Linked DNA regions of Homo sapiens. The protein of the gene in region 1 interacts with the protein of each later gene in a biochemical or structural test. Each region holds a gene or a part of one and is shown on either strand. Other genes may lie near its edges. The genes, in order: TGS1 and MED1.

What was found.
Region 2: the proteins of TGS1 (region 1) and MED1 form a complex in vitro, tested with the Homo sapiens proteins (one study listed by BioGRID).

What each region holds. Positions count from the first base shown.
Region 1 is NC_000008.11:55,797,274-55,801,097, reverse strand, and holds part of TGS1 (trimethylguanosine synthase), read right to left. Parts: intron 2,185-3,824; coding exon 1,878-2,184; intron 1-1,877. UniProt on the Homo sapiens protein: Catalyzes the 2 serial methylation steps for the conversion of the 7-monomethylguanosine (m(7)G) caps of snRNAs and snoRNAs to a 2,2,7-trimethylguanosine (m(2,2,7)G) cap structure.
Region 2 is NC_000017.11:39,423,490-39,427,313, reverse strand, and holds part of MED1 (mediator of RNA polymerase II transcription subunit 1), read left to right. Parts: intron 1-2,575; coding exon 2,576-2,687; intron 2,688-3,492; coding exon 3,493-3,617; intron 3,618-3,824. UniProt on the Homo sapiens protein: Component of the Mediator complex, a coactivator involved in the regulated transcription of nearly all RNA polymerase II-dependent genes.

The DNA.
Region 1 (3,824 bases):
AGCTGTCAGCCACATTGAAGTCACATGGCATCTGAGAAACTGAAACAAGGGTCACTAGCTCCATTCCACGGAAAAGGATCTCATTCATTCAGAGAGTGATTTTTTCCTTAAATAATTTTTATCAGTTTGGTTATTTGGTTTCAGTCTTCAGCAAATTAGAAGCAACAACATAGAAAGATGAGACTTTTTTCACAGTTAAGTATAAAAACAAGAGGTGATGGCTAACAAAGAATAAGACTCCATTACACACTCAAATGGTCCTCAAGGATAGGGCTATGTCCTAATATGTTCATCTGATCATTGTAAATAGTAAAAAGTGTCATCATGATTCAGTAAGGTCAGATCTCCCCATCCCCAAACAAGTGTTACCAATAGCAAAGTAAGGTGATTATTTGTCAACAGGGGGTATAATGACATTGTGGGTGGAATAATTCTTTGTTGTGCAAGACCATCCTGTACATGACCTAACATTAAGTAACTGAGTACTAAATGCCAGAATTCCAAATGTCATTCTAACAACCAGCATCTTCCAAATGCCCTTGTGAAGGTGGTACTACCCCAGGTAAAAATAACCAGCATCATGAGAATTGGTGTTTATGGAAGTGGGATAGTGCAGGAAAATGGGACTTAGCAATTGGAGAAGCTGGTAATGAGTCCTAGCTATGCCACTTACTTGGGCTAATTTTTAAATTTCTCTCAGCTTTACTTTCTGTATTTACAGAATGGAAAATAATTCCACCTACTTCCCTGGCTACCTTACAGATTAAATGAGAATAAGACACATAAAAGCATTTCACAAACCTACAAATGTCATATGAACATCGGTTATTATAACATTGATAATAAAATAAATGTAAACTACTGTAGGTATGCTGTTTAGAATGTAAAGAAATATGTGATAAAAAGATCACACATACACATACACCCACACTTGCACTAAGAAAAAAAAAATCAAGACTCAAATAAGTTATTTTCCATAGTAATAAAGAAATATGATGAAGGATCACAATAAATATAATGGTTTCATAATACCATTATTAAACTATATAAGAACTTTTGCTATAAAAATTCGAATACAAAAGTGCATAAATTGAAAATGTTACTCAGTTTATTCATTAGAGCCAACTGCTCTGAATACTTTTTATATTAACGTGCCATCAAAAACACATGACCATCATCAACCACACACACACAAACACACAAAAACACACCAAAAGGAAACCAGCCTGAGCATGGTGGCTCATGTCTGTAATCCCAGCACTTTGGGAGGCAAAGGTGGGAGGACTGCTTGAGCCTTTGGCAACCAGCCTCAGCAATATAGTGAGACCCTGTGTCTCTACAAAAAAAATTAAATAATTAAGCAGGCATGGTGGTATGCACATGTAGTCCCAGCTACTCAAGCTGAGGTGGGAGGACTGCTTGAACCCTGGGGGTCAAGGATGTAGTGAGCTGTGATTGTGCCACTGCACTCCAGCCTGGGCAACAGAATGAGACCCTGTCTCACACAAAAAAAGGAAGAAGTAAACCAAAGCTACACCACATACGAAGAAGGCAAAGGATGGTCACCTTTAGCCCATGGAACTGAGTACCAGCAGAGGCCAAGTTGAACTGCAGACAGTGGTCTGCAGACACAATGCTCCCAACAGTCTTTCCTTTTCTACTTGATCATGTTCACTCAGCCAAGAGTGAGGAGTGCTGTGGGTGCTAAGTCATAGCCAGTTAGAACATGTACACTTAATATGCCTTCTCTCACTTAAAAATAAGTAGCAGTGACTCCTTAGGTACAGAAGATTCACAAGTGAAAACTAAGAAAAAACATATTAACAAAAAAAATTTTATCTAAATCCATTAGCAAGTTGAAGCATATTTAGTGTTACCTTCAGTTTCTGCCTGGCGGGAGTCTGGCACTTCTTGAGTAACACAATCCTGCTCATCTGGAACAGTTGCTAGCAAGCTGTCTCTTTCATAGTTTTCTGTTTCAAGTTCACCAGCTGAAGATACGCTCTGACACTTTTCAGGTTCTGGATTATTAGTCTCCAGTAGGTCATCACCTTTTTTAACAGACATGTCTTGTTCCTCTGAATCACTACTTGTGGAAGCGTCGTGCACATTGTCATGAGAAGATGATTCCTGTGATGCTTCTTCATCCATTGGTTTATTAACCCATGTGAGGAATTTTTCTACCTTAAATTTTAAGATGACATCATGAGCAGGAATTAATTCCAAACTACACAGAATCTTCCTACCTATTACAATTTGTGACTTGACTGAAAAGCTGTGTCAAAATTATTGGCTCTGAAAAGCAGACTGCATCACACAAGCTTAATAGTAAGTAATTCTGACCTAATCAGAATGCTATCTGGGCATGCCATGACCTTATTAAAAGTTTTCTTTAAAAGGAAAAAAATATCAGATTAAATACTTCCTGCTATCAATAAATACTAAGAGGATAAAGCCAAACTGTCCCAGTGGCTTTTCCATAAGGGTTCTTAACAATTTAACTGTGCTACAGCTACATTACAAATGTACCTACTTACTACTGAATCATTAATTTTAGTTTTTCAAATTATATAGACCTTTCTGCAATGGTCAAGCTACAATCTATGTAAATGTTACTTAGCATCAAAGACGAACCCTAAAAAGATTTAGGGCCAATTCTTCTGTAAGAATAGAAGCAGTCTACCTTGGAAAAAAATCAAAGTTGCCTTTTAATGCAACAGTAGAGCCAGTAAGATATGTCCCAGCAAATGTTTGTTCTTTGGAATGTAAACAAGGCTCAGCATCAGATCATATACTTCTTTGCATCTTCTGTAACAAGAATATTCTTCCTATCTTGTCTTCATGACCTTCCTGAGAGTGAGTAAATTAGAATGAAGTGGTAGACATGATGGGCAACAACCCAGAATCTTCCTCTAAAGAAATGTGCCTATAAATAAATTAGGTATCTAAGTTAGACACAACAGTTACATATCTTTTTTCCTCAGCAATGCTTAGTAGCTGTTTCTGCACTCATCTATAGATGAATGCATAGGGGCTATTATATCCAACACATTACGGAAAGTCCTATGGCACTGACTGGACTAATACTAGGCAGTCTGTTTCAGATATAACTAGCACCACGAACATATTTATTAAAACATCACCAGCAGCCAACCAACCTGAAATGTAATACAAAATAAAACCAGCTATATATATGTAGCATATTTTACAAGTATGCTGAAGTTAGGGAGGACACTGTATTGAGGGGAAAAAGAGTCATCTGACTAGCCTTAAAAAACGAACAACAGAGACAGAGACATCATGGAGTCTAAGATTATGGTCTACTGTCCTGAAGAGCTGCTGGAGATGTGATTGACATGAAGGTTCTGCTCATTAGAAAGTGTTTTTTACCCCTTAGAATATAGAAAGGTAATTCATCACACCAAGCAATTTTCTAACTACTTTTGTTTCCCAGGTACTTGGATGGCAGGTATAGCAAAGTCCAATATATGAATATTTCAGGTAATAATGTGAATCAATAAATTGGCCTGTGTTTCATGCTATCAGGGTGAACTTGTTACAAGGTGTAAACTGTGACTGATCACTTCTGGAAGAACTCAGAATTAAAGCTTATAATATAAAGCTGTATCAGAATTTGGACTATTAGGATCCTACTGGTATGGTTTGGCTGTGTCCCCACCCAAATCTTATCTTGAATCATAGTTCCCATAATCCCCACGTGTTGTGGGAGGAATCAGGTAAAGATAGTTGAATCATGGGGGCAGTTTCTCCCACTCTCTTCTTGTGATGGTGAGTTAGTTCTTATGAGATCTGATGGTTTTATA
Region 2 (3,824 bases), on another chromosome or scaffold:
GCTACTCAGGAGGCTAAGGCAAGAGAATTGCTTGAACCCGGGAGGAGGAGGTTGCAGTGAGTCAAGATTGCGTCACTGCACTCCAGTCTGGGTGACAGAGCGAGACTCCATCTCAAAAAAAGAAAAAAAGTACTTTTGAATAAATAAGTAAATGAGCAACTCATAAGAAGAGATATAAACGATCTGACCTGAGATAATCAGCTTACTCATTGTTTAAAAAGTGTAGAAGGATGGGCCTGGTAGTTTATGCCTGTAGTCCTAGCTACTTGGGAGGTTTGGGCGGGAGGATTGCTTGAGCCCAGGAGTTTGAGACTGTAGCATACCATGATCGTGCATGTAAATAGTCATGGTACTCCAGCCTGGGCAACGTAGTGAGTTACTGATCAAAAAAAAAGTGAAGTTTTCTAAATTAAAGAACTATGGTAATGGACATTATTTTCTGTTTGCCCTTGATACAAGAAAAGATAAAGAGAGATAGACTGCCGGGCGCGGTGGCTCATGCCTGTAATCCCAGCACTTTGGGAGGCTGAGGTGGGCGAATCACCTGAGGTCAGGAGTTCGAGACCAGCCTGACCAACATGGAGAAACCCTGTCTCTACTAAAAATACAAAATTAGCCAGGCGTGATGGCCCATGCTTGTAATCCCAGCTACTCAGGAAGCTGAGGCAGGAGAATCGCTTGAACCTGGGAGGCGGAGGTTGCAGTGAACCGAGATTGTGCCATTGCACTCCAGCCTGGGCAACAAGAGCAAAACTCTGTCTCAAAAAAAAGTGAAATGGACTAATACCTCCTTAGGTCCCTTTGTAGCTTCACTCATTGACTCCATCCCTTTATTGTTTGTTTGTTTGTTTGTTTATTTATTTATTTAAGATGGAGTCTCACTCTGTCACCCAGGCTGGAGTGCAGTAGTGCGATCTCAGCTCACTGCAACCTACACCTCCTGGGTTCAAGTGATTCTCCTGCCTCAGCCTCCCAAGTAGCTGGGACTACAGGCATGCACCACCACACCCGGCTAATTCTTGTATTTTTAGTAGAGATGGGGTTTCACTATGTTGGCCAAGCTGGTCTTGAACTCCTTACCTGAAGTGATCCACCTGTCTTGGCCTCCGAAAGTGCTAGGATTACAGGTGCGAGCCTTGGCGTCAGGCTCCTTTATTGTTATTATAATTTGGCATGGGGGACGGGGTAGGTCTCACTGTGTTGCCCAGGCTGGCGTACAGTGATTTGATCACAGCTCACTACAGCCCCCGAAGTCCTGGGCTCAAGCCATCCTCCCGCCTTGGCCTCCCAAAGTGCTAGGATTACAGGTGTGAGCCAGTGCACCAGCCTGTCCTTTTATTATGATCCTACTTAAATGCATTCTGAAGAAAAAATAAGTAAATATTGATACTGAACCCTTCAAAAATGATGTTTTTGGACTGCATTGTTTCTTGTGTTTTATTTACTGACAAAAATTATTGGTTGATTAGAAAGGTAACTTCCAGGATTTCTAATTTTTTTTTTTTTTTTCCCCAGACAGAGTCTCACTCTGTCGCCCAGGCTGGAGTGCAGTGGTGCGATTTCGGCTCACTGCAACCTCCGCCCCCCAGGTTCAAGTGATTCTCCTGCCTCAGCCTCCTGAGTAGCTGGGATTACAGGCGCCTGTCACCACACCTGGCTAATTTTTGTGTTTTTAGTAGAGATGCGGTTTCACCGTCTTCTGCAGGCTGGTCTTGAACCCCTGACCTTGTGATCCACCCGCCTCAGCCTCCCAAAGTGCTGGGATTACAGGCATGAGCCATCACACCTGGCCTGATTTCTAAGTTTTATAGGAACTACAGGCCGTGCCTGGTGGTTCATGCCTGTAATTTCAGCACTGTGGGAGGCTGAGATGGGTGGATCAACTTTAGGCCAGGAGTTTGAGACCAGCCTGGCCAACCTGATGAAACCCCCATCTCTACAAAACATACAAAAAAATTAGCCAGGCATGGTGGTGCATTCCTGTAATGCCATGTACGTGGGAGGCTGAGGCATGAAAATTTCTTGAACCTGGGAGGTGGAGATTGCAGTGAGTCGAGATCACACCACTGCATTCCAGTCTGGACAGAGTGAGACTCTGCCTCCAATAAAAAAATAAATAAATAGGCTGGGCGCAGTGATTCACACCTGTAATCCCACCTGTAATCCTAGTCCTTCGGGAGGCCAAGATGGGCGGATCATGAAGTCAAGAGATCGAGACCATCCTGACCAACATGGTGAAACCCCATCTCTACTAAAAATACAAAAAATTAGCCGGGCATGGTGATGGGCGCCTGTAGTTCCAGCTACTTGGGTGGCTGAGGCAGGAGAATGGTGTGAACCCAGGAGGTGGAGCTTGCAGTGAGCTGAGATTGCGCCACTGCACTCCAGCCTGGGTGACAGAGCAAGACTCTGTCTCAAAATAAATAAATAAATACATAAATAAATAAATAAGGGAATAACAGCATCTGATAAATTATAGCTGACAAATATTGCAAAAATTAACCTCTTAAAACATACTGTGATTCCCATCATTTGTATTACTTTGAGGAATACCCTTTTTCTTTCCTATCCCCAGTTTCTCGATCTTTGGGCATGAATGCATCAGTGACAATTGAAGGAACATCTGCTGTGTACAAACTCCCAATTGCACCATTAATTATGGGGTCACATCCAGTTGACAATAAATGGTAAGTTAAATATAATTTTAGAGTAGCAAAGTCAATTTTTCTCAAAGCGCAGTATGTAACAAGTTTTAACCTGGCTGTTACCCCACTTGAATTTCTAGAGGTTGGCCTTTTGTTTTATCCATTCATTGGTTTCTCTTTTGTTTGATATCTGAGTGTTCCTCTCCAAAGTCGGCTCGTAGAACACATTCTCTGCACTGAAAGGGAAAGAAGAGAACTGTGCTAATTCCTCTGGCTTAATGAGTGCCCCCTTTTATCTTACGTTCATTAGTTACATTGGAGTAATAACTGGAGAACATGCCTCAGGATAAATGTTTGATTAAATTCTACAGTGTTAACCAATAGCATGTCTGGGAATTGGGGGTAGGAAGTTTCACAGAGTGAGCTTTTGAGAGTTTGTACTTATGTGTCTGTGTGATACATACATGTTTAAGAATAGGTGTTTGTGGCCAGGCATGGTGGCTCACGCCTGTAATCCCAGCACTTTGGGAGGCTGAGGCAAGTGGAACACCTGAGGTCAGGAGTTCAAGACCAGCCTGGCCAACATGGTGAAACCCCATCTCTACTAACAATACAAAAATTAGCCGGGCGTGGTGGCGGGCACCTGTAGTCCCAGCTACTCACGAAGCTGAGATAGGAGAATCCCTTGAACCCGGGAGGCAGAGGTTGCAGTGAGCCAAGATCACGCCATTGCACTCTAGCCTGGGCATTAAGAGGGAAAATCTGTCTCAAAAAAAAAAAAGGTGTTTGGGTTTTTCATTTTTATATCAAGTCAGAATCCAACCCTTCCACCCTCTTTTTTTTGAAGGACCCCTTCCTTCTCCTCAATCACCAGTGCCAACAGTGTTGATCTTCCTGCCTGTTTCTTCTTGAAATTTCCCCAGCCAATCCCAGTATCTAGAGCATTTGTTCAGAAACTGCAGAACTGCACAGGTGAGTTTTGAGCATCAGGATCTAGTACTTGTTATAAATGTGAAAAAGAAACTTCAAAGTCAGGTTATCATGACGTCTTTCAGTCTTACATGCCTCATTGAAGTATTACTGGTAAAGATGTTATAGTGCTTTGTACTAGTAAATGCTTAGTAAGTACTCTTTTGGGTGAATGAATGTAGATATCAAGGGGAAACTGAGCTGTCAGTG